Linked DNA regions of Homo sapiens. The protein of the gene in region 2 purifies or fractionates together with the protein of the main gene of each other region. This does not show direct contact. Each region holds a gene or a part of one and is shown on either strand. Other genes may lie near its edges. The genes, in order: PAG1, GJB7, PALM3, GNAO1, CCNY, CNTN1 and EFNA5.

What was found.
Region 1: the proteins of GJB7 (region 2) and PAG1 purify together in Homo sapiens (affinity purification with mass spectrometry; 2 studies listed by BioGRID and IntAct, with this or other methods). This does not show direct contact.
Region 3: the proteins of GJB7 (region 2) and PALM3 purify together in Homo sapiens (affinity purification with mass spectrometry; 2 studies listed by BioGRID and IntAct, with this or other methods). This does not show direct contact.
Region 4: the proteins of GJB7 (region 2) and GNAO1 purify together in Homo sapiens (affinity purification with mass spectrometry; 2 studies listed by BioGRID and IntAct, with this or other methods). This does not show direct contact.
Region 5: the proteins of GJB7 (region 2) and CCNY purify together in Homo sapiens (affinity purification with mass spectrometry; 2 studies listed by BioGRID and IntAct, with this or other methods). This does not show direct contact.
Region 6: the proteins of GJB7 (region 2) and CNTN1 purify together in Homo sapiens (affinity purification with mass spectrometry; 2 studies listed by BioGRID and IntAct, with this or other methods). This does not show direct contact.
Region 7: the proteins of GJB7 (region 2) and EFNA5 purify together in Homo sapiens (affinity purification with mass spectrometry; 2 studies listed by BioGRID and IntAct, with this or other methods). This does not show direct contact.

What each region holds. Positions count from the first base shown.
Region 1 is NC_000008.11:80,969,069-80,972,568, reverse strand, and holds part of PAG1 (phosphoprotein associated with glycosphingolipid-enriched microdomains 1), read left to right. Parts: 3' UTR 1-3,500. UniProt on the Homo sapiens protein: Negatively regulates TCR (T-cell antigen receptor)-mediated signaling in T-cells and FCER1 (high affinity immunoglobulin epsilon receptor)-mediated signaling in mast cells.
Region 2 is NC_000006.12:87,326,479-87,330,535, forward strand, and holds the start of GJB7 (gap junction beta-7 protein), read right to left. Parts: upstream 2,801-4,057; 5' UTR 2,660-2,800; intron 1-2,659.
Region 3 is NC_000019.10:14,059,277-14,063,433, forward strand, and holds the start of PALM3 (paralemmin-3), read right to left. Parts: upstream 2,801-4,157; 5' UTR 2,705-2,800; coding exon 2,664-2,704; intron 1-2,663. UniProt on the Homo sapiens protein: ATP-binding protein, which may act as a adapter in the Toll-like receptor (TLR) signaling.
Region 4 is NC_000016.10:56,197,989-56,201,488, reverse strand, and holds part of GNAO1 (guanine nucleotide-binding protein G(o) subunit alpha), read right to left. Parts: intron 1-3,500. UniProt on the Homo sapiens protein: Guanine nucleotide-binding proteins (G proteins) function as transducers downstream of G protein-coupled receptors (GPCRs) in numerous signaling cascades.
Region 5 is NC_000010.11:35,339,509-35,343,008, reverse strand, and holds part of CCNY (cyclin-Y), read right to left. Parts: intron 1-3,500. UniProt on the Homo sapiens protein: Positive regulatory subunit of the cyclin-dependent kinases CDK14/PFTK1 and CDK16.
Region 6 is NC_000012.12:41,024,439-41,027,938, reverse strand, and holds part of CNTN1 (contactin-1 isoform 1 precursor), read right to left. Parts: intron 2,790-3,500; coding exon 2,603-2,789; intron 83-2,602; coding exon 1-82. UniProt on the Homo sapiens protein: Contactins mediate cell surface interactions during nervous system development.
Region 7 is NC_000005.10:107,422,938-107,426,437, reverse strand, and holds part of EFNA5 (ephrin-A5 isoform 1 precursor), read left to right. Parts: intron 1-3,500. UniProt on the Homo sapiens protein: Cell surface GPI-bound ligand for Eph receptors, a family of receptor tyrosine kinases which are crucial for migration, repulsion and adhesion during neuronal, vascular and epithelial development.

The DNA.
Region 1 (3,500 bases), on a different chromosome or scaffold from region 2:
AGCCAGGACGAAGCCAAGACAACGTGACTCCCAAGTAGCAGGAGCAGAGGTCGGTCACCTGTGGCATTCTGTTTCATTCCCTTTTAAAATTATGAGACTTTATAGGCAGTGTAAAACATCAGCAGGCAGCGATGTGATAGGATGTGCGAAAAAGCTGGTCTGATACCATGGCTATAATTACAGAGCTTTAGTTCAATTAGGATTTTGTAAATGAGCAAATGACCTTTTTTTCCAGTGCCCCTTGTAATAGTTAATATGAGTCCATGCAATCTTGTGATGCCATTCTCCTGAAGGTGTTGATTTCTGGTACCCAGCCAGCTTAGCTTTGGCTGCTGGAAGCACAGTAGGTACTGATGATTACTTCCTGGAAATCTTGACAGGCTTATTGTACTGTGTAATGGGGAAAAGTTAAAGTATAATGTTTGGTGTTAATAAATGACTGATGTGAAAATAGGAACATGTGTCTTTAATATCAAATATGGCTTTATTTGCAGTGAAATCTAAATTCCTTATTCTACAGTAGTATTTTCTTGCCCTGTGTTGTATATTTTCCTAAATACATTTTTCCTGACAGTGGCTTTAGGCCAGTTGAACACACTTAGACTGAAAGTGTTTAACTTAAAGAGATCAGTCCAGAAACCATGATAAATTAGAATCTTTATCTGGAATTACCAAATTAAAATTTAAAATCATGGTCCAGAAGAGAACAAACATTCATGGTTTTTTTTATCCTACTGCTCATTTTTAGGTCTGTGTTTACATCTAGTCTCTACTATTTGTGAAGTATGTCATTATTTTTTTCAAGTTCTTCTTTGACTTAACTGAAAAATAATATTCCAAATTCTTAATGTAACATGAAAAGAGAAATACAATTTTTGCTTAAAAGACATTTTTTAAAAAGCGTTCAATTCAGTAATCATTTCTGTTAATACAGGAAGTTTTTTTGGCTTGCCAGTTATATACTGTGGGTATTTTTTAAAATGTGCTACCCTTGGGTTGTCTCATATCACCTTGCGTAATCATGTATTACAAAGGTTGATAATTGTCATTTCTCAGATGTCTGTATGTTACATTGGCAGCAGTAAAATGTTTTAATGTTGTTACCTTTTAAATAATTGTGTTGTATTAACATGCCTCATATTTTCTGGGGAAACTTGAAATATATCTAAACAAAAAAGGTCTGTTATAAATAGGAATTGGCATTTCATTGTTAATGTTTTTTCCTCATAAAAATAGTTACACCAAAAGTGACATATTGTCTATTACATGGGCCCAATCAGTATTAAAGTACTCCCCTTACTCAAAAATATTAAAAAATAATTCATGACACTTAGTAGCATTTTCATTGATTGTTTCAAAAGATCTTCATAATGGTCAAATTGTCCAATTCACAAAAGAGTGAGAAAGTTGTTTTCAGTACTGGGAATTTTTAAACCTTAGTTTTAAGACCAAAAATATCTCTTATTAGCTTGAACATTTTGTGATTACTTTTCCCTCCCCGGATCTAGTCCTTTTAAGGAGTAAGTCTAAAGAATGAGGCCATGAAGTCACTATTTCCTCCCACCTCAGTTTGTCTCCTGGTACTTAGCTGGCCTATCGCTTTGTGTGGCAATACCCCTGGGTCGCTTCCCCACTCAGCCTTCTGTATCTGCTGTTCACAGGACATGCCATTATGTCTTTCCAGTACGGATCACAGTGCTGCCATATCACAGACCCTGCCAGCCGGCACAGAACCATGCCTCGTCACAGCTCTGCCCAACTCACAGGCTGCCAAGATGAGGCCACAGGTCCACCTAGGGCGGCAGATGCTGGTGCTATTTGTCACGACTTTTGCCAAAACATGTACACTGTTGCTCACATCTTTCGTAAGAATGGTTGACACTAAGGGGCCATGGAAAAGCACTTTTAAAAAATTATGTGGTGGAATCAAACTCACAGAGGCAGAAATGTTAGTGCCGTGCTCTAACCAAGTAAGCTTAGTGTTCCCCACAGTGATCTGTATCTGGCCTGAGTCTCCTCAAGCAGCAACCCCCACTGTCCAGCATGTGGAAGGTAGATCCTTATGACAACACCAGACCCATAGTTACCAGGAAAGAAAAAGGAAGCTGAGTGTTGTGAAGGGGAAGAAATCCTTTTTATAAGAAGTAATCATTTTTAGGCCGGGTGCAGTGGCTCATGCCTGTAATCCCAGCACTTTGGGAGGCTGAGACAGGTGGATCACTTGAGGTCAGGAGTTTGAGACCTGCCTGGCCAACATGATGAAACCCTGTCTCTACTAAAAATGCAAAAAAAATTAGCCAGGCATGGTGGCATGTGCCTGTAGTCCCAACTACTCAGGAGGCTGAGGCAGGAGAATCACTTGAACCTGGGAGGCAGAGGTTGCAATGAGCTGAGATCGCAACACTGCACTCCAGCCTGGGCGACAGAGCAAGACTCCATCTCAAAAACAAAAACAAAAAAAAAACCTTTTTAAAGTAAATTGAGTGTAAAATGTTTTCACCATGAAGCCATTGCACCCTCTCCCCCAGGAAACAGTGCCTAAGGATGATGTCAAGTTACAGCCAGTTTGCTCTGATCCCCCAGGACCTAAGAAAACTGTGAGTGCTTCAGCATGCAAAGGTAGAGCTACCAGATAAGGAGAATAACTTGGCCATTTATAGCAAACTGCCTGACTTTGGAGTGAGAAACCAAGCACCTTCTAGGTCCTAGGATAGGTGAATTGGAGGTGCAGCTGCTGAAGTTCCCATTTTCTACATACTTCAGGAGCCAGGGTGTTTCATTTGGTTTTGTAAAACTTTGCTGTAAGTCATCACAGTTAATTCTTTGAATGGACATTTTAGAGTGTAACTTTTTTTCAAAATTAGCAGAACAGATATCTCTGCTCATTCTCTTTATACATTTAGTTTTTTAAAGTTCCCCTAGTATACCTGTTAGGCACTCTAAATAGGACACAGTTAAAGCTAAAAGAAGGACCAGTTGCTCCCTAGAGCCTACAGTTCAGAACTATCTTGTTGTCATGTCCTGGTTTGGTTTGGTTTGTTTTTAACTCAACAAGTTGGAAACCATGAGTTTAAAGCAAACTATTTCCTTTTCTTAAGCTTAAAGAGAATTTTTTTTTTAATCTTTAGCTCCTCATTTAGGTAGTGAAGGCTTCCCTGAAAGACAGCAGTGCCCTTCTCTGGAAGAAGAGGCTGGGACCAAAAGCCTGAGTCTATGGGTTGAGGATTTTGAGCATTCCTTTGACAAGCTTCTATGTATTTTTAATATAAGACTCATAAATGAACCTGATGTGGTGTTCATGACCCATCCCTTAAGCATGCTTGCTTTTTTTAACTTTACTTTTTGAGTATAGTACTTGTCTTGTTTTTCCTGGAGCCATGCTAGGATTTAATTCCTATGTGCCACTACCCGCCCATGTCCTGGAAGATGGCCATGCCTGCAGCAATGCTCATGTCTTGAGGAGAAGCAATGTGAAAAGCATCAGGAAAGCTGAACCTTAC
Region 2 (4,057 bases):
TTGGTTTCAAAGAACATCTTTATTTCTGCCTTCAGTTCGTTATGTACCCAGTAGTCATTCAGGAGCAGGTTGTTCAGTTTCCATGTAGTTGAGTGGTTTTGAGTGAGATTCTTAATCCTGAGTTCTAGTTTGATTGCACTGTGGTCTGAGAGATAGTTTGTTATAATTTCTGTTCTTTTACATTTGCTGAGGAGAGCTTTACTTCCAAGTATGTGGTCAATTTTGGAATAGGTGTGGTGTGGTGCTGAAAAAAATGTATATTCTGTTGATTTGGGGTGGAGAGTTCTGTAGATGTCTATTAGGTCTGCTTGGTGCAGAGCTGAGTTCAATTCCTGGGTATCCTTGTTGACTTTCTGTCTCGTTGATCTGTCTAATGTTGACAGTGGGGTGTTAAAGTCTCCCATTATTAATTTGTGGGAGTTTAAGTCTCTTTGTAGGTCACTCAGGACTTGCTTTATGAATCTGGGTGCTCCTGTATTGGGTGCATATATATTTAGGATAGTTAGCTCTTCTTGTTGAATTGATCCCTTTACCATTATGTAATGGCCTTCTTTGTGTCTTTTGATCTTTGTTGGTTAAAAGTCTGTTTTATCAGAGACTAGGATTGCAACCCCTGCTTTTTTTTGTTTTCCATTTGCTTGGTAGATGTTCCTCCATCCTTTTATTTTGAGCCTATGTGTGTCTCTGCACGTGAGATGGGTTTCCTGAATACAGCACACTGATGGGTCTTGACTCTTTATCCAATTTGCCAGTCTGTGTCTTTTAATTGGAGCATTTAGTCCATTTACATTTAAAGGTAATATTGTTATGTGTGAATTTGATCCTGTCATTATGTTAGCTCGTTATTTTGCTCGTTAGTTGATACAGTTTCTTCCTAGTCTCAATGGTCTTTACATTTTGGCAATGGATGGTACAGGTTGTTCCTTTCCATGTTTAGTGCTTCCTTCAGGAGCTCTTTTAGGGCAGGCCTGCTGGTCACAAAATCTCTCAGCATTTGCTTGTCTGTAAAGTATTTTATTTCTCCTTCACTTATGAAGCTTAGTTTGGCTGGATATGAAATTCTGGGTTGAAAATTCTTTTCTTTAAGAATGTTGAATATTGGCCCCCACTCTCTTCTGGCTTGTAGAGTTTCTGCCAAGAGATCCGCTGTTAGTCTGATGGGCTTCCCTTTGTGGGTAACCCGACCTTTCTCTCTGGCTGCCCTTAACATTTTTTCCTTCATTTCAACTTTGGTGAATCTGACAATTATGTGTCTTGGAGTTGCTCTTCTCGAGGAGTATCTTTGTGGCGTTCTCTGTATTTCCTGAATCTGAATGTTGGCCTGCCTTGCTAGATTGGGGAAGTTCTCCTGGATAATATCCTGCAGAGTGTTTTCCAACTTGGTTCCATTCTCCCCGTCACTTTCAGGTACACCAATCAGACGTAGATTTGGTCTTTTCACATAGTCCCATATTTCTTGGAGGCTTTGCTTGTTTCTTTTTATTCTTTTTTCTCTAAACTTCCCTTCTCGCTTCATTTCATTCACTTCATCTTCCATCACTGATACCCTTTCTTCCAGTTGATCGCATCAGCTCCTGAGGCTTCTGCATTCTTCACGTAGTTCTTGAGCCTTGGTTTTCAGCTCCATCAGCTCCTTTAAGCACTTCTCAGTATTGGTTATTCTAGTTATACATTCTTCTAAACTTTTTTCAAAGTTTTCAACTTCTTTGCCTTTGGTTTGAATTTCCTCCCGTAGCTCGGAATAATTTGATCGTGTGAAGCCTTCTCTCAGCTCGTCAAAGTCATTCTCCGTCCAACTTTGTTCCGTTGCTCGTGAGGAACTGCGTTCCTTTGGAGGAGGAGAGGCACTCTGCTTTTTAGAGTTTCCAGTTTTTCTGCTCTGTTTTTTCCCCATCTTTGTGGTTTTATCTACTTTTTGTCTTTGTTGATGGTGATGTACAGATGGGTTTTTGGTGTGGATGTCCTTTCTGTTTGTTAGTTTTCCTTCTAACAGACAGGACCGTAAGCTTCAGGTCTGTTGGAGTACCCGGCCGTGTGAGGTATCAGTCTGCCCCTGCTGGAGGCTGCCTCCCAGTTAGGCTGCTCGGGGGTCAGGGGTCAGGGACCCACTTGAGGAGGCAGTCTGCCTGTTCTCAGATCTCCAGCTGCGTGCTGGGAGAACCACTGCTCTCTTCAAAGCTGTCAGACAGGGACATTTAAGTCTGCAGAGGATACTGCTGTCTTTTTGTTTGTCTGTGCCCTGCCCCCAGAGGTGGAGCCTACAGAGGCAGGCAGGCCTCCTTGAGCTGTGGTGGGCTCCACCCAGTTCGAGCTTCCCAGCTGCTTTGTTTACCTAAGCAAGCCTGGGCAATGGCGGGCGCCCCTCCCCCAGCCTCACTGCCGCCTTGCAGTTTGATCTCAGACTGCTGTGCTAGCAATCAGCCAGACTCCGTGGGCGTAGGACCCTCCGAACCACGTGCGGGATATAATCTCGTGGTGCGCCATTTTTTAAGCCCGTCGGAAAAGCGCAGGATTCGGGTGGGAGTGACCCGATTTTCCATGTGCCGTCTGTCACCCTTTTCTTTGACTAGGAGAGGGAACTCCCTGACCCCTTGCACTTCCCGAGTGAGGCAATGCCTCGCCCTGCTTCGGCTCTCACATGGTGCGCGCACCCACTTACCTGCGCCCAGTGTCTGGCACTCCCTAGTGAGATGAACCCGGTACCTCGACTGGAAATGCAGAAATCACCCATCTTCTGCGTTGCTCACTCTGGGAGCTGTAGACCGGAGCTGTTCCTATTCAGCCATCTTGGCTCCTCCCCTCTTGTTTTGTTTTTAGACAGAGTTTCGCTCTGTCGCCCAGGCTGGAGTGCAGTGGCACGATCTCGGCTCACTGCAACCTTCACCTCCTGGGTTCAGGCGATTATTCTGCCTCAGCCTCCCGAGGAGCTGGGATTACAGGCCCGCACCACCACACCCAGCTAATTTTTGTATTTTTAGTAGAGACGGGGTTTCACCATATTGGCTACGCTAGTTTCAAACTCCTGACCTCAAGTGATCCTGACCTCAAGCAATCTACCCGCTTCGGCCTCCCAGAGTGCTGGGATTGCAGGCGTGAGCCACCCTGCCCGGCAGGAAAGATACTTTTTTAGAAAGTATGTTTTACCTTAAAAACAACATATATATAATCAATTTTTAAAACTTAAGTGATTATAATTTTTTTTCTTAAATATTGTAATATACATGCAAAGGCCTTTTATCAATTCAAGAGTAAGATGGGGTGAGGTGGTGAAATATTGGTGGGCTGGTAATTGGGAGACCTAGGTGATCGCACCCTCCTGGTAAGGACATCTCCTTGGGTCTGGGTTTCTCAGAAAGGGGTTTAGAAGGGGGAGTTAGACTAAATGGTGAGTATGAAAGTAGCTACCATTCATTGAACATCTGCATCTTTTAAAATGTGTCATCTTAATTAATGCACACATTTAGTACCTATCTATGCAATAGATAGTATTGCTCCTTTTATAAAGGTAGAAACTGAGAATCAGAGTTGTCACTTAAAGACACACAGCTTATAAGTAGCAAAGTGAGAATCTGAGGTTATGCTATGTTTCCCCTCAAGCCATGAAGTCCTCTGATTCTATCCCAAACTTGTTTAAACTAATTTAAATTATTTTTAAGGTTTTCTGCCCCAAAGTTCAAGTTAGTTTCTTAAGTATTAAGATAATGTGGCATGTGAAACTATAAAAAAGTGTATTATACTTTCATTAAAATATTTTGCCCATTTTATAATTCTCTGTCTTTTAAAGGAAATGCTTTCATTATTAATAAGGTTCCTGCTCGTTAACATTTTATGATTCTGGTCATTTTGTTTTGTCTTCTATTGAGGTGCTTATTTCTAAAATGTATGTTTGAAGATTAAGTGTTTCCCTCAAAGTAATTCTTATATTCTTTATATCTTAGTCTAATTTGCATGTACAATATATTAATAGGTAGTCAAGTATTCTGGAATAACTCCCTGAGCAAGAATTTTGCTAAAGAAGGGAAAATCATTCAAAAATGACTAGTCCTGACTCTCGGTG
Region 3 (4,157 bases), on a different chromosome or scaffold from region 2:
CCCCTTTGCACCTGGGAAGAGTCTGGGCGGGGGGCGAGGGTCTTGGGAGGGGAACTGAGCAGTGACCACGACTGGTGAGGCTAAAGCCCTCCCTAAATCTGGCTTTGTCTCTCTCAGCCTCAGTTTCCTCATCTGTAAGATGGGCAGGAATAGCTTGACCACCCTGTCCTTGCCACCCCCGATCTCAGAGGACGCTTGCAAGGAGCTATTCATGCAGGGAAAAGCTTAGGGTACAGTGCTACAAAAATAGTCCCATTGTTTATGAATAATCATAATTTATATAATTCCATGATGAATAATATGTATGATTAATTATAATAACCATCTCCAGTCCAACCTGCAGAAACTCTCAAATGCCACCAGGCCCCTAACAGGCTGTGTGCCTCTTTCTCTTCCCAGTCCCACACCCTCTCTGGACCTCAGCTCCTACCCAGAATTTCTCAAGCGCTGGGGGGGCAAGCGAGTCTGTGGCCCTCCCACTGTTGCCATGGTAACCCCAGAGCTGCCTCCTCCACCTGCTAACCCCCCTCCCTGGGGACAAGGATCACTGGGTCACTCTGCCTAGGACTGGACTCTGAGCTGGGAGGAGGGGGACTTGCCATTTAAGGTTTAACTCGAGATTCCCCTGTCATTGTCTTCCTCAAAACATCTCTACTTCTCAGCCTCCAGAGTGGCCTCTGGACCCACTTAGGCTCCCGTGGAAGCTGGAGGGTGACTGTCATACTGCAGGATGATTAGGGACAGTCAGTGTCACACCAACCTTATCAACACAGACATGCATTGGGCACCCCTGACTATGTTGCTATGTTGACCACGTGTCACAGGCCAGTATCTAGAAAGCGATGTCTCTCTGCCTGTCATCTCCACCGGCATGGACGGGCGCTGATCAAACCCTCAAACATTTATTAATTTGAACAGTCACCCTACTGGGTAAGCCTCATTGCCTGAACTCCAGCTAGGACCTTCCAGATCTTCTGTGGCCACAACGTGAAGGCTATTAGCACTTATAGTGCTATATATATGATATATATATACTATATATAGCATATAGTGTTCTAAGTGCCCCACGGGGTTTCCGCTAGGTTCCCACAGCCACCTCTGCCTCCCCCTCCCTGCCTCTATCATGACACAGTGGAGTCAACTCTTTGCTGAGTTGACATTCCAGCTAAGAACAAAATCAGCCAACCATTAGCTAGCCCGTAACACGTGCCAGGTGCAATGTAATTCACTGAATCCTCCCAACGACTCTAGGAGGTAAGCTATATGAATGTGTCCATTTTATGGATGGGAAAACTGAGGTTCTGAGAAGTGGCAGCAGTGTCCAAGGTCATGGAGCCAAGATCAGAACTTGAAGCTATCAGATCCAAAATACTGAGAACACAGCTGGCGAGGGGGGTGGGGGTGCAGGTCTAGGAATCCCCATCAAGGTAGCTAAGAGAGCAGCCTGGAGACCCTGAATGCTGTTTGGGGCAAGGAATTGAAGTCATGCTCTTTCTTTTTTTGAGTCGGAGTCTCGCTCTGTCACCCAGGCTGGAGTGCAATGGCTCAATCTCAGCTCACTGCAACCCCCGCTTCCTGGGTTCAAGTGATTCTCCTGCCTCAGCCTCCTGAGTAGCTGAGATTACAGGCGTGCACCACCAAGCCCGGCTAATTTTTGTATTTTTAGTACAGATGGGGTTTCACCATACTGGCCAGGCTGGTCTCGAACTCCTGACCTCAGGTGATCTGCCCGCCTCGGCCTCCCAAAGTGCTGGGATTACAGGCGTGAGCCACCGTGCCCGGCCACGAAGTCATGCTTTGCAAGATATCCCAAAGGAAGCCCAGATTCTGTGCTTATAGGTTTGCCCCTGGGGGAGGGCTGAAGTCCCGTGGTCTCCTGTACCACCCCCAAGATGTAATCTCCCTGCCTCTTCCTTGCTGGGGGGGATCGGGTTCCCATTGCTAAGCAACCAGGTTTGTAGTTGGTGAATAATGCAATGGAGGACCTAGAAGGGTGAGGAACCGAATTGGGGTCCCTAGTGTGGGGGGAAGCCCCTTTTCCAAAACTCTTTCCAAACCTCTGAAGCCCCCTCTACCCTTTTAACCTTAAAAAACTCTCACCCCTCAGCTATGAAAAGACTTCACACACCCCATTCCATCTTGCTTATCTCTAACTAACTCTGGAAGAACAACGTAGGCGGCCTGGGCTTCTGGCCACCCGCAAGAGTTGGTGGCCATTTCATGAAGGAGGTCATCCTTGCAATGTTGCCATTGTCTTTCTCAGGCTGGGAGCTTTTAACTTCTGTTGGATCTCAAGCCTTTTCTCCCACCTTGGACACTGACTTTAGGGGCAAAACGTGGAACCCAGTGACCCTGACCTTCCCCACTCCCTGCACCACAGCAGTAGCCCCACCCCCTGGCTGGACTTTGGGTTCTCAGCCCTGGCAGCGGAAAATCCCCGAAGAGGAAGGGGCAGGGGGAGCCTATATCTCTCTCCCACCCCTTGACTCTTTAAGGAAGGGTGACACTGATGAGCCTATGGGGTTGGCTAGCCAACCCCTCCACTCCCCGGGTCCCCTTAGGAGAGACCACTGGAGCTCTCGGCTCCCAGACAAGGCCAGCATCCCCCATGAGCCCCTCCCAAGGCCCTGCCCACCAGCCCCCCTGACCCCCCAGACACTTACATGGGTGTGGCCAGAGACCACACCTGGCTCTGCAGGGCCATCTCTGCCCAGAAGTTCACTTTCTGGTCTCCGAGTTCTGGACCCACCACCCGCTTGCCTGAAGGTGCCCCGGAGGCTGTGACTTGGCTGCCTGGAGTGGGGGGGGGCTGCGGGCGGGCACCGGGAGAGCAGGTCCAGCGGGTTTGGGCCAGGGAGGCGGTAGGCACACCAGAGAGGGGGGCTGGGGGCTGGAGGGCAGTTCTGGGGAGGTACTATCAGCTGTCCTGATAAATTATTCACCAGCCTCTGGCCTCTTTGTTGCACTCAGCTGCCTCCCGGAAAACACTTTCACACACGCGTGGTCAAGCGTGGGGGTGAGAGTACTGAGTCGGTGACTCCCCCTGCCACCAGAGAATGGCATTTCTACTTGGCACCCCAATCATCTTGAGTCTGACTGCCTGCCAAGACTCACCCACAGGAGAGCACCATTGCATAGCACACAGGCTGGAGACTGTTTTATTTTTTTAGAGATGGGGGTCTCACTCTGTTGCCCAGGCTAAAATGTAGTAGTGCGATCATAGCTCACTGCAGTTTCAGACTCCGGGGCGCAAACAATCCTCCCTCCTCGGCTTCTCAAAGTGCTGGGATTACAGGCATGAGCCACCACATCTGGCAGATAACATTTTTTAAAATTATTTTTTAAGAACAGGCACAGTGGTGCATATGTGTAATCCTAGCACTTTGGGAGGCCCAGGTGGGTGGATCACCTGAGGGCGGAGTTCGAGACTGGTCTGACCAACATGGTGAAACCCCGTCTCTGCTAAATACAAAAAAAAACTTAGCCGGGCATGGTGGTGCATGCCTGTAACCTCCGCTACTTGGGAGGCTGAGGCAGAAGAATCACTTGAACCCAGGTGGCAGAGGTTGCAGTTAGCCAAGATCGCACCATTGCACTCCAGCCTGGGCAACAAGAGCAAAACTCTGTCTAAAAAAAAAAAAATTACTTTTTGAGCCAGGCACGGTGGCTCACGCCTGTAATCCCAGCACTTTGGGAGGCCGAGGTGGGCGGATCACGAGGTCAGGAGTTTGAGACCAGCCTGGCCAACATGGAGAAAGCCTGCCTCTGCTAAAGATACACATTAGCCAGGTGTGGTGGCACACCTGTAGTCCTAGCTACTCGGGAGGTTGAGGCAGGAGAATTGCTTGTACCCAGGAGGCGGAGATTGCAGGGAGCTGAGATCATGCCACTGCACTCCAGCCTGGGTGACGGAGCAAGACTCCGTCTGAAAAAAAAAAATTACTTTTTGATCGTGGTAAAATACACATAACAAAATTTACCATTAGTGGCATTTAGTATGTTCACAATATTATGCAATCCTCACCACTGGTTCAGAATATTTTCATCAACCCAAAAGGAAGTGATCACTACTCATTCCCCTGCCTCCCGTGCCTGGCAACCACCAATCTGTGTCCATCTCTATGGATTTGCCTATTCTGGACTTTTTGTTTTTCTTT
Region 4 (3,500 bases), on a different chromosome or scaffold from region 2:
AGAATAAAATCCAAAGTCCTTAGCACAATAGATAAGGCCTTTCATGATCTGGTTTCTGTCCAATCTTTCATTCCTCATTTCTTAACACTCCTCTTACATATTTTGCTCTAGTCAAATCAAACTATTTTACACTCCTAGCATGTTCCATGTGGTGACATCTTAATGCCTTTACACATGCCAGTCCCTCTGCCTGGCATTCCTTTTTTTCGACCTGGTGAACTACCACTTGTTTTAAAGGCTCAGTTCACATGCCATTGTCTCTTGGCTGTCTTCCCTGAACTTCCTGCCTAGAGAAGGTGCCTTCTGTTCTACCATAGCACACTGTGTATACAGACATTGTGGCCCTTCCTACCTGAAGTGCAAGAGTCTTTTTTGTGTAGCTCCCTCCAGACCATGAGTTCCTTCAGGACAAGGACTGAGGCCTTCCTCTCTACTTCCATGACACTGTGTGTATGCTACCCACAAAATAGGCAATCATAAATGCTTATGGATGGACAGATGGATGGATCCCCTACCATCCTGTCTTTCCATAGTTCTCCAAGACACCTGCCTCCACCAAAGCCAGAGCCTTCTCTCTGTTGCAATCTGAAAATGGCCCCCATTTTTGAGGCGGTAATGAAAAATCATTTCAAGGCCTGTCCAGATGGTTGCTAGGGAATACTCTGGTATCCAAATCAATGTGATATATGATGACCATTACTACCACCTCCAGAAGGAACTCAGCACCAATTAGGCACTTTCTATTCTCTCAGCCACTGACCTCAACCACAGCTGGCACCATCAACATCTGGGTGTGAGGTCGTAGACTGCCAGGTCTCTACTGCCCATACTGGGGGTGGTCTAGTAAGAAAGGTGTGGAGTTACAACGAAAAGAACACAGGTTTTAGAATTAGACAAATCATTGTCTGAATACAACACTGTCACCTACTAAGCTGTGTGGCCTTGAGCAAGCCACCTTACTTCTTTGAACCTCACTTCCTCATCTGTAAAATGGAATTGATGACTATATTTGCTCACAGGTTGATAAACAAATGAATATAATAGATTGAAAATGATGAACACATTCCATGGCCACCAAAAGCTTTCAACATGATTATTTTGGTTTATGGAGAATAATAAGGTTCATTCCTTATATACCTCGTATTCTTCCTTTTCTTTAACTAACGTTTATTAAGACCTCCTTTGTGCCAGGCATTGGGCATGGTGCTGTACTATGAGCAAAAATAAGTAACATCCTTGCTTCAGGGAGCCCTGGTGGGAAGGGACACCCAGGCTAGCAAGGGATACAGACAAATAAACACCTAATTAATTCACAATGTGCAATATGCATTAGTGCTCTGAGACCCTGGGGTCAGGTGACCCCAGGATCAATTTTAAAGCATGGAGAAGCTATTCTCATAAGTAACAATATTCTACAGAAAACCTATCTGTTGGCTAAGACACAGGCAGAGAATCCAAGGTAAATTGTTAGCTATGAAATCCTAGTCTTATGTATTATTCTCCCTTTCTCTTTTCTCCATTCTACTTATTTCTAGGATGGTTGACAAATCAAGAGAGTAAGGGGCCAAATTCAGGGCACCAACTATTAGCCTTGCAAGATTTTATTTTACTTTAATTTTTTGGTGCTATGAAAAGCACAATGTTTTTCCTCTTCTCTGTAAAGAAAATTAGAACTAAAGATGGCTCAGCAGATAAAAGCTGTGGGTGGTAAATACTCCCACTATTCCCCACCGCCTTTCAGGCTTCTAAGTTTCTCTTTGCATTTACTGCATCTTAGAGCTGGAAACCCGAAAGAGCCCTGAGAAATTCTATGGTGAAAACCCACATCCCAATTAACAGATGAACAAATTGAGGCCCAGGGTGGCCAAATGATCTGCCCAAAGTTAAATGAGAGAGTGAATCAAAATTAAAATACAGTTCTCCTGAGCCTCCCCTTTTACTAGTCTGCAAATCTCTCTGCTCCCTGGGTTTTAGGCACCTTAACCCAGGCAAGTTTCTTCATATGCAGCCATTTCTGGTGAACGCTAGGGCTGTCTCCACTTCTGAGCATCCTGGAAGCCACGGAAAAACCACTTCTCTTCTAATGTCACTGGCTCTCTCCTCCCAGAAACATCCTGTTTCTTACTAATGAGATACTTTCAGATCCTCCTCTTTGGTTTAAGAACCATGTCTGCATGAAAAGTTTGGTTAGAGGTGTTTTTCTCAAATTGACTCTCAGAACTACAAATTTCCTGGCTGACAAAGCTCTGTGGCTGAGGTTGCTATTCTGCAATTAACTTAGTCTTAAAAGAACTTTCATGGATACCCTACACCCCCATGGGATAAAACCATAATTCATGCTTTAATATTGAGAACATCAAGACCCTGAAAACAAAGGGAATTCCCAATTTCATACACCGTTGACAACAGGAAGGGAGCCTGGGGTAGCCCTGGTCCAACTCTTTCAGGAAACCGAGCCCTCGGAGGGGCAGAGGCAGAGCTACTGACCTGGACTCCTGGTTCAGTGCTCTTTCCCACCCTTTGAAATGTCACCCCAGCTCTTGGGCTGAAGCAGCTGCGCCATCAAAAATGTCACATCAGTTATGACAACACAGTTTGTTATATAACTGGTGCTGCAGAGCAGGCAAGGGGAAGAAGCCATGAACATGAACCACAGCACCCCCCTTCTGCTTCTCAGGGTGGCTAAGTCCCACATACTTACTTGACAAGAGAACTCCACATGGGAAGGGAACACCCACTAATCAAAGGAATAAAAACTAGAGCTAACATTTGTATAATGATTTCTACATTCTAGACACTACTCAAAGCACATTTCATATGTTAACTCATTTCATGCTCTCCACAATCCTATTAGTAGTTATTTTCATTATCAGTCCCATTTTACAGGTAAGGAAACTGAGGCACCAAATGTTATGGGCCTTGTGTAAGGTCACATATTTAGTTAGCAGTAGAGCCAAGATTTGAAGCCAGGCAGCCTGTTTGCAGAGTCTATGCTCTTAACCAACTCTCAATTTTAGAGAAGCATGCTAAACTGCTTCTCTAAACACAAGAAACTACCTATTTATCTGAACCAGTTAACAAGCCACTGCTCTCTCCTCTCCTTCCCCTCAGTGCTAATCACAGATCTGTTGGACAGCTTCCTTTCTACCAATGCTGTGTGTGAATGAGAGGGATGGAAGAAAATAAGAATGTGACACAGATTTGAAGAAATTCTTAGGATGGAGTTCATTTGAGCATCTTCAAGCTTTTTAAGATGATGCAATCAGTAAGAAAGTGAGGTGAGTGCTCTTCTCAACATCTGCCATTTGTAAACCCACACTCTGTGGGTATGTACAAACAGGCACACTTTCTTTTTTCAGAATCAAAAGTTTTCTCTATTAGTGTCAATTCTGAGGGTAACTCTTTCCAAAATGTGGTTTTTTTTGTTTTGTTTTGTTTTTTTCAGTTTGGAATCACCCCTTCACCAGCTTTTCTGTTGTCTTTCAGATCAAGATGTATTC
Region 5 (3,500 bases), on a different chromosome or scaffold from region 2:
AAAAAAAAGGCAGGCAGGAAAGTAAAAGTCCTTACACAAAATATTGCTAGACAAAAGCATATAGGCAATAACTATGAATCTCTTGAAACAAAGTGGGCTGGGCCAGGCCATCAGGAGGTTCAGATTCTAGACACGGATCATTCTCTAATTAGCTGTCACAGGGCAGTTGAGGCATGGAGGCAAGCTGACAGCAGACCGAACCCCAGCTGCCACTAACAAACTGAGGAACCTTCCGCAAATGCCTTAACCTTTAAGGCTCAATTTCTTCACCTAGAAAATGGGGAGAATGATAAGAAGACTAAGAAAAACAATACAGGTCAAGTAATTAGCACGGTTGTTGGCCGAAAATTAACAAAGTAAATTCTACTACCATCATCCATGATCTGCATGACCTGGGCAAGAAACTACACCTCTCTGAGATTCAGTCTTCCCACCTGTAAAATGGGTGTGTGGAAGCAAACGACTCCCTGATTCTAAGTGAAAGAGAAACATGAAAAGTAAGCAGAGACAGGTCATGGACCCATGGTCAGTGCTATGGAGAATGGCTCTCTTGACAAATCTTTAAACTGCACTTCTCCACACTGCTAACTAATATGAAGTCACATGCTTGGTCGGGGTGTCTCCACATACCTTGCAGACAGCAGGGCTGATAAGTCTTAGCCTGGAAAGAAAGTCCACGGTATGTTCTGCCCACCAGGGCTGGTAATGTTAATGTGGGACCAAGATTCAAGAAAGAGTGCTGCAGAGGTGATGTTAAATAGATTGTAGAGACTCAAGGAAGCCAAGAGCAATATGCAAGCTCATCCTACAGGCACTTAGATTTCAAATTGCCCTGTGTCCCCACTCTTCTAACGGCAAGCAGTTTTGCCAGTTATCCCTCCGCTGCTTGGGATGAGTCCCTGAGGCTTCTAGCTTCTCTGGCTGTAGACAGCCAAAACACCATGTACCTATATCCCATTAGACACTTCATGTTTCAGACAAGAAAATCAACATAAGTGACTATGTTCATAATTGCAGATGTTCATCTAGTATTTTTTGGTTAATTGAGCATTTGAGTCTCAATTTGATCCTTAAGGATGTAAGGCCACAGCTAAAGTCATTCGTTGAAAGAAACAAGGAAAAAAGACTAAACATACCACATTATTAAACAGATTCCCATTAGCCAGGTTTCCTTTCAGCCTGGGTATGCTTTTTTTCTTTTTAAGCTTTAAAACCTTTAAGTTTCATTTTCAGTACTTCACCCTATCTGCTACCTCTCAGGTTAAACTACAAAGCCAAAAAGTTTCACATCCACGCTACTTTCATTATTACAAGTCCTCTTCATTCTCCTTGCCTCCTGTTTCCCCTCACCCAATAAACATACGCGATGATGTTTTCATTCACATCCTTCAATGGTTGGTTTCACTCAACAAATTCATTCAACAAATATTTATAGTATCTTCAAGGAATCAGGTGCTACTCTAGGCACTTGGTTACATCAGTGAACCAAACAATAAATGTTCTATTGGAACTTACATGCTAGTAGCTAGTAGCTAGTATTTATGTTTATACTTATATAGTATATCATAAAGTGTTAAGGAATAAAGAAACAGGAGTGCAGGGAATATGCATTGGGATTGCCAGTGGGCGGCAGAAAGGATGTTTAAAGGTGATTGGGAAGGCCTCCCTGAAAAGGTCAGGCTTGAACCAAGGCTGCAGGTGATAAAGGGACTCAGCCAAGAGAGCACATGGAGGACACTTCAGGCAGAGGGAGAGAACGGGGTGGAAGTTTGTGTCTGGTATGTTCCAGGAAGGGCAAGGAAGGAGGCCAATGTGGCTGGAATGAGCAAGCGACTGAGTGAGCTGATGGCAGGCAGATCCCAAGGGGCCCCAGCGACCACTGTAAGGCTTTTACTTGTGCAATAACGAGTCACTGCCGTTTTTGAGTGAAGGAATAAGTTCAAGTTTTTTAAAGGATCTTAGCCATGGCTGTTGTGTCGAGAACAGACTGGAGCAGGCAAGGGTGGAAGCAGGGAGACCAGGTGGGCTGGGGGAGATGGCAGCTGCTTAAATCTCCAGAAGAGCAGCAGCAGAGGTCTTGAGAGTGGTCAAAGTCTGATATATTCTGAGGGCAGAGAGCCACATTTTCCTACCAGATATGATACAGGACGAGGGAGAAAGTGAGTTGTCAAGGATGACAGGTAAACTATAAAAATGAAAAGAGTGGGCCAGGAGCAGTGGCTCACCCCTGTAATCCCAGCACTTTGGGAGACTGAGGCGGGCAGATCACTTGAGGTCAGGAGTTCGAGACCAGTATAACAAATATGGAGAAACCCCATCTCTACTAAAAATACAAAATTAGCCAGGCGTGGTGGCGCATGCCTGTAATCCCAGCTACTTGGGACGCTGAGGCAGGAGAACTGCTTGAACCCGGGAGGTGGAGGTTGCAGTGAACCAAGATTATGCCACTGCACTCCAGCCTGGGTGACAGAGCAAAACTCCATCTCAAAAAAAAAAAAAAAAAAGAATGAAGTTGCCATCAACCATTTTAAGGTAAAACCCTACAAGGACACTATGGTACAGCTGTTACAAGTATCCTGATTTATTTGGTCTCCTCACATTTTAAATTCTCTTTAGTCCCTCCCTCCCTTTCTCCTCCCACAGAAATAATCTAATCCTGGAAGTCTGGACTGAATAACTGCTGCAGACAGAAGAAGTTTATCCTTGAGAAAGTATGGATATGACTGCAATGACAAGACACCCTATCCCAGAAGGCAACCCCAGACTAGCTAACGTTTGATGGCTAAGTCAAGCAACAATGGAAAGTTTCCATTTGCCATGTATTGGCTGTGTGACTTTGGACAAGTCATTTCTCCTCTCAGTGACTCATTTCTTTGTCTTAAAGTAAGGGTAATATTACCCATAGGGTTACTGTGAGTTCTAAGTAAATGAATGGAATCCAAGTACTTAGAGCGGCAGCTGGTGACAGCTGCTACAGAGTAAGTAATACATAGGCTGCAATTATTACTATCATTTTTTTATTTTCCTAAAGAATTGTTCTGAAGATTACTATTGTTGTTATGTGTTGCTGTTTTTTCTCAATCTCTGAATGATTTTATAAGAAATAATACCTGGAAAGCATGAGTCCAATATCAATTTCAAAAACATGAATAACCTAACACTAAGATAAACTGAGCAAAAAGACACATTAAGTTGCCATTAAGCACCATAGACACCTAAGTTCCCAGACACTAAAATTACTGAAATTCTACAGGACAAGTATTACCCCTTCATGTGCCTGGTGACAAAGGGAAGAAAGCATGGATACATATGTCATATCTCTGTGATTTAAAGACACTAACCTATCATAGAAGACCCATGAACTTCAAACCTTTCTAAACCAGCTGGGTGGGATGTTTTTCAGGACATAAAAAATATGGTATTTGAGTACTTCAGCTTTTGATATATACTAGAGTCAATGATTCTTAAAATGTAGTTTTAAAATGTTTACTAATAACCTA
Region 6 (3,500 bases), on a different chromosome or scaffold from region 2:
AGTGCAACGACATGATCCCAGGTGATTATATAGCGTGAACCAGACCTTACTGAACTGATGATCCTTGGAGGCTGGCTAGGAGCTGTGAAAAGTAGTAATATGCAATCAGTGGTCACTATATCCAATCTCAATTCTGCATACTCTATTGCATCAGGTATTATAATGCTGATGATAATGACCACCACCATCTAGTTTTAATAAGTGTTTACTATATGCCAGGCACTATGCTAAGCACTTTACATCCATGAGTCCATTTAATGTACCCCATGGCCCTGTGAGCTAGGTAATATGACTTTTATTCTCTTCTCATCATGCTCCACTTGGGTTTCTTTCTCCACTAGTCTTTTGAAATTGCTATTTGCAAGGTCATCAATCACCTCCACTTGGTTAAATCTAATGTCACTTGATTATTCTTTTTTAAATTTAACATTTTTGGAGCATTTCACAGAATTGACCATCTTCTTTCTTGAATCTCTCATTTTTTCTTAAATTCAGATCTTAACAACTGGGTTTTCCTTCTACCTCATGGGCTGCTGCTTCCCATTATTCATGCTTAGCTGGCTCCCTCTGTCAACTTGTAACTGTTGGATGATTTAGGACTTCATCTATGTACCTTTTCTACTCTCTCTGTGGATCTTCCCTAAGTACTGACACTTAGGCCCATGGCTTTAAATATTCACAGTTCTGTCTCTAGCCCTAATCTCTCTTTCAACCTCTAGACATATGTGGCTATAGGTCTCTCTGTCTAGGCAGATATCAGCCTATTTCTACTTGAGTCTCTAAAAGATTTCTCAAATGTAATATAATCAAATGTAATACATTTTTCAAATGTAATATAATGTCGAGTATCCTCAAATCTTTCTCCAATGACTCTTTGCCATCGTCAGCAAATGGCACAACCAACCCCCTAGTTTCTCAAGCAGAAATTTGGTATTTAGTCTCTCATCCCACTCATTGCCAACATCCAAATTGGCAGCAAGTTGTCAACTCTGCCTACAGAAAACTTTCCACTTCTGTCTCCATTTTCACTTAGTGCTAGCCACTATCAATTCTCTCCTTGACTGCTGAAATAGTCTCCTAACTGGCTTTTCTGCTTCCACTGTTAACCCACCACAATCCATTTTCTGTACAGATGCCAGAATGACTTTTTTAAAAACAACATCATAAATTAGATATCACTCTCTGTTTTAAAATCTTTCAATGGCTTCTTATCATGTTTAGAAAGAACTCAAACTCATCACAATTACTTACAAGGTTCTCCGTAATTGGGCCCCAGAACACTTCCCCCTCCTTACTCAGAACCTATGCCCTGGACCCAGTGGCCTTTCCACACCTAAAATATTTTAAGTGCTCTTCACCTTAAGGTTTTGTACTACTTAGAGTGCAAAGAACCTTAAGGCTCTGCCTAAAGCTATTCACATAGTGGGTTCTTCTTATCATTTATCACTCAAATCATAGCTTAACTGGCATCTTCTCAGAGGCCTTTCCTGGCCACCCAATCAGAATTTCACTTTTATCTAAGTCACTTTACTTTTGTCTATTTATTCATTTTATTGCCCTGTCAGCTGCTTTAATCCCACTTATTTATTTGTCAGAGTTTGTGTTTGTTTGAAGTTTCTATCTCATTTCATTAGCTTGTAAACCATGCGAGAATAGCACCTTGGACTGGTTTGATCCCTTTTGTATCCTCACCATCAAGAATAGTGCTGAGCACACAGCATATTTTTGATGAATGAATAAATACATGAACAAATGGAAAAAGAACAAAAATGAATGCTCCTTTTACAAATTAGAAAACTGAGGTTTAAATAGGTAATTTATCTATTGTCATACATCTAGCAAGTGGCAGAGACAGATCTCAAACACATGTTAGACACCAAATTCTAGTTCTTGTCACTACATTCTGTCATCTCACTGGGAGAGTCTCTGTCCCAAAGTGAATTTCATAAATTTTCACACTCTAATGGTAATCACATCTTCAGATTCTTGAGACATTCCCTAGAGTCCTACATAAAAATTCTCCTTTTTACTTATTCCACTTGGGTTCAAGAACAGAGATATCAAAATGAACCCAGAGAGATTAGAATGACCAGAACGTGAGCAGGGATAGGCGGTCTTGTTTTATGAACCACCTAAAACATACAGTACTAGAACATACAGTAATAAGAGAGTAAGCATAATGCTACACACTTAACTTGCATTGCACTGTGCAATGACAGAGGTTTATAAATTAAAGCATGTAAAAATAAGCAGAATTTTAGTTTTCACATGCTGTTGATGTACTCCTATGAAAACAATGTTTAAATTAATAAGTACAGGGTAAAGACAAGTTAATGGCACAGAATTTGAGAGGACAGCCTTTACAAAAGGATAGTTCTCTAACTTTATTTCTATAATGGAATATTTAACGTGTGAGGGTATTTTTCACATTTTTTCATCATCTACAATAATTCACGTTTTAAGGGAAATCTTGTGTGGCTGTAAAGGATATTGAAAAATGTGCTCAGGTAGCTAGGTAGGAAATTTCCTTCAAATATATTCGTATCATGATTGAATCCAGTGGTAGTTTTTGACAAGTCTAAAAACAAAACGTGAGACTCACGTGCTTTCTTGGTGAAAGCCTCAATCATGTCACTTGGAGGTCCACACCCTGCACTATTGCAGGCCCCGACTTCTATAAAATACTGGGTGTCTGGCAGAAGGTTCTCGAGCCTGGCCGAGTACTCTTGGCTGGTGACTTGAACTCTGTTTGCAGCTTCTTCTTTGTCATGGGCAGCCCAATACCGAATCTGCAAACATTCAGGATGAGTTATATTTTGCCATGATTTAGAGTCTTCAGCTATGAAAAGTTCTCTTCAACTGGTTCTATTACCATTGGTGTTGGCTGATCATCATATTTTCAAATGTTTCTTAATGATATCTACCCTTTTATCAGCCTTAGAATATAGTAAAGCATACAGGGCAGGAATGACTAAAGATGCCAAAAGCGAATCAAAGTCTTACTTCATTGCCCAAAATTGTTTTACATTGACTAAAAAAAATAAAAAATAAAAAATTTAAAAATCCCAAAAACTTTGAAGCAGACTTACTTTCAAAATATAAAAGTGGTCTCCATTTGGAAGTATTTGTCACTATAATTTTTATCATTTATTTCCTGTTTTACTTCTGTTTGCATGATTTCAAACTTCTTCTGAGCCATTCTTAAAGCAGTTGGAGAGGAATATAATTTTGCTGGATAAAAATAGTTACTATGTGGCCTAGAATACGCTAAAGTAATACTTTCTTCTGCCTCCTTTCAGAAGTATCTAATGTTATTTCCTTTGAACCCATATAGAAGCTAGATATCAAAGAAATATATCTAATAACTGGATAAACTGTAGAAATTATTTACCCATAAAATAATTTTTAAAAAAGTTATCGATTTTTTCATTAGAAATGATTACTTTTGTCAAATAATTACAGGATTACTTTTCTCTTAAAGTTTAAGAAAAGTTATGGAT
Region 7 (3,500 bases), on a different chromosome or scaffold from region 2:
TGACTCAGGAGGTCTTAAGGCAGGGCCTGAAATTCTGGATGTATGAAGCTCCCAGATGCTGCTGCTGCTACTGAACTGTGGACCACACTTTGAGTAGCAAGATTATAGGTGGTAGCTACTTTAAGCAGCTTGTTGTGTATCTGGACTTTAACTAGTATTTATATTTAAACTATCTGGCCTTTCCCATGTATTCTCACTGTCAACTGAAGAGGTTAAAAGTTTACTTGTTAAAAAATACATTTATTGGACAGCTTAATCTGAGCTGAGAAATGCTGGGGGATGCAAGATGAAAAGATATTCCCTGTTCTTAGGGAGTGACCTTTCACTGGGGAGCAGACATGTAAATAGGCAATTAAAGTATAAGTCGACAATTGCTGATGATGAAGATAAATTCAGGGAGTAGTGAGAACATGGAGAAAGTTGTGCCTCACCTGCTTGGAAGAATCAGGAAATGCAACCACACACAGTGGGTAGAGATCCAAGTTATACCACTCAGTATGCTTAGCATCGACTTTCACCCCAGCTTGCCAGACAAACAAGAACATTCTTTTTTCTGACTCATTTCTTCAGTCCAAATGTCCCTACCCACTCACAACTTACACGGTTTAAGTCTACAGGGATTTCTAGCTCCTCTCCTTCTCCAGAAAACAGAATTTTATAATAAGTCAGATTTCACCATCACAATGATAACTGTCACTTATATTGGAATTGAATTTAAAAAGGAAATTGAACAGTACCAGTTTTATTATTTCAGTACATATTTCAGTCATTAGTCATGAGAAAACATGCAAAAGCCTTGATACTATCTCACATTTGATCCATAAAACAAGAAAAGGAATATTGAGTCCCACAGATGCAGGAAGCACTGGCATACAGTGAATTCACACTTCTCAGGCAGCATGTTCTTGACTTTTATTGCTTTTTTACTTTGTGAAAGAATCTCATTCAGCATATGAGAAAAAGGAAAGAGGAGGACTTCATTTGTGGGACAGCAACTCATTAGTTGTCTCACTGTAAAATACTATACCAATGTAAGAGAAAATTCTTGCTAGTTTTGAAATTTTCTTACTGGCTTCTCAGATTAAAAAAACAACAGCAAAAGCAAAAATCAAAAATGAATAGAGAGCACCAAGATGAGGAACATACCCACTAACTAACTAGTTGATTGCCTGATTATTAGAAATTATAGAATTCATTCAGCTTCATAAGCAAGATGTTATTATTCAAATATACCCATAGCGCTTATGACTGGTTTTTCCTCATTTGTGGTTAAATTCAATATTTCACTAAAAATCATTATGTGACTTCTATAACATTCATTTAACGGAGTCATTTAACTGTCAAGGGCTTCCGTCAAAGTAATTGTTCCAAAATGCTTCAAAATATGAAGAGCTTTTTGCTGTTCAGCTGAGTTTAACTTGAATTACTTTTTTTAATGAAAGGTAAAATAGCACAAAATTAGCAGCAAAAAGATGTTCATTAACAAGAAGCACAGTGGCTTGGTGTTCAGTTAAATTGAATTTTCAACCATGTTTTCGACCCGCAAAGGCATCCTTCCCTGTCTTTTTAGTAATGAAAGGGTTTCTTCTCTTCCACCACTGCAGTCAGGAGCAGCAGAGCTAACATGGTTGTCTTACAGACGTTTAATGTACTGTGGTCATAATTAAACTAAAGGATTCTTAGGGGAGAATTGGCCCTCAGTTGAATTTTCCTCTTCCCTAATGTGTGTGGAATGAACAAGATGATTGGGAAATAGCTATTTTCACACTTACTACGTTACAAGATGCTCTATTGCTGATCTCAGGAACAAGCTTCACTGCCCACCAGTCAATTTTACAGAATGTTCTTGCTAGGACAGCAGTACCTCTTAGCTCCTCATAGCCTTAAAATCTCTTCTTACTTTCCCTAGAAAAAAGAAAGCTGGCTGTGCACAGTGGCTCACATCTGTAATCCTAGCACTTTGGGAGGCCGAGGCGGGTGGATCATGAGGTCAGGAATTCAAGACCAGCCTGGCCAAGAGAGTGAAACCCCATCGCTACTAAAAAAAAAAAAAAAATACAAAAATTAGCTGGGCATGGTGGCAGGAGCCTGTAATCTCAGCTACTTGGGAGGCTGAGGCAGGAGAATCACTTGAACCAGGGTGGCAGAGGTTGCAGTGAGCCGAGATTGAGCCACTGCACTCCAGCCTGGGTGACAGAGTGAGACTCCGTCTCAAAAAAAAAAAAAAAAAAAAAAAAAATGAAAGAAAGAAAAAAGAAAGCTATAGCTTTTTGGCCATCCTGCTTTATGGTGCTAGGAGTAGGCTTAAGTATAGTGAAGACTGTGGAGTGCCAAAATTCAGATACAAACACAGATTTGGAGGAAGGGAAGACAAGGATTTCATAACAAGCTATTCACCTCATTACTTAGAGAGGACATGAGTCAGAAGATTCTTATCAACATTTGCCTTATCCTCAACCAGATTTCTTTTTTTCTTAATGTCTTTGAGTTTTATAAAATTAAGAAAATGTGGTAGTTGAAAATATCCTAAATGAAGTTTCCAATTTACTTTAAAAATAAAACATGCTTTGCAGTTCTAGTCCCTTTATTTTAACTCCCAAGAATAACTATGCTATATTCTCCTTTCCTTGGGAACAGACAGTATATTAAGTTGTTATAATTGCTGATTATTGCTGAGGTAGACTGGGGCCATCTCTGAATCTGACAAATACTGTTTTTAATCTACAGGAGTTATTTTGGTAAGAGATTGGCATACTAAAGTAATTACAGAAAGTTGGCGGTATTTATATCAATGATAGATTTGCAGAACTGCCAGTCAATTGATTAAGACAATAGTTGTTTATATAGACTTCCTAAAGGAAACAGTAATTTTAAAAAATTCAAAAATACTCATTTTAGCTGGATATGGTAGCACATGCCTGTAGTCCCAGCTGTTTGGGAGGCTGAGGTAGGAGGATTGTTTGAGCCAAAAAAATCAAGACCAGCCTGGGCAACATAGCAAAACCCTGTCTTTTTTTTTTTTTTAATACTCCTTTTAGAAACTTAAAAAATACTCAATTTAGAAATGATACTCTTAAATATTAACCTAATGAGAATATGTTTGATAGAAGTTTTGCAGTTATTTTTACATCAGAAGGGGTAAAGGGAAATCCTTTTAATAAGTTATCTTTGTAATTCCATAAAACACTGATTTGAATATATGCTTTTATAAAGTAAGGAAAACTGAGTCCCAGGTCCTTTTCTTGACCTAACTAGCTGTATGATCTTGAGAGAATCATTTCATCCATCTGGAGTTTGAACTCTACATCTGTAAAATAATGTAATTATAATTGACTTCAGAAATTCTTGGAGCTTTAATATCCTAATTTTATTATATTTTATCTGAGGGTCTGCAGCATTAGGGTAAAAGATAACATCCGTACAGTGGTCCAGGTCAATACCTTGCTTAGTAGATGTTCAATAAATCCTAGTTAAAGGTACATTTTTAGGGAAAATGCAGA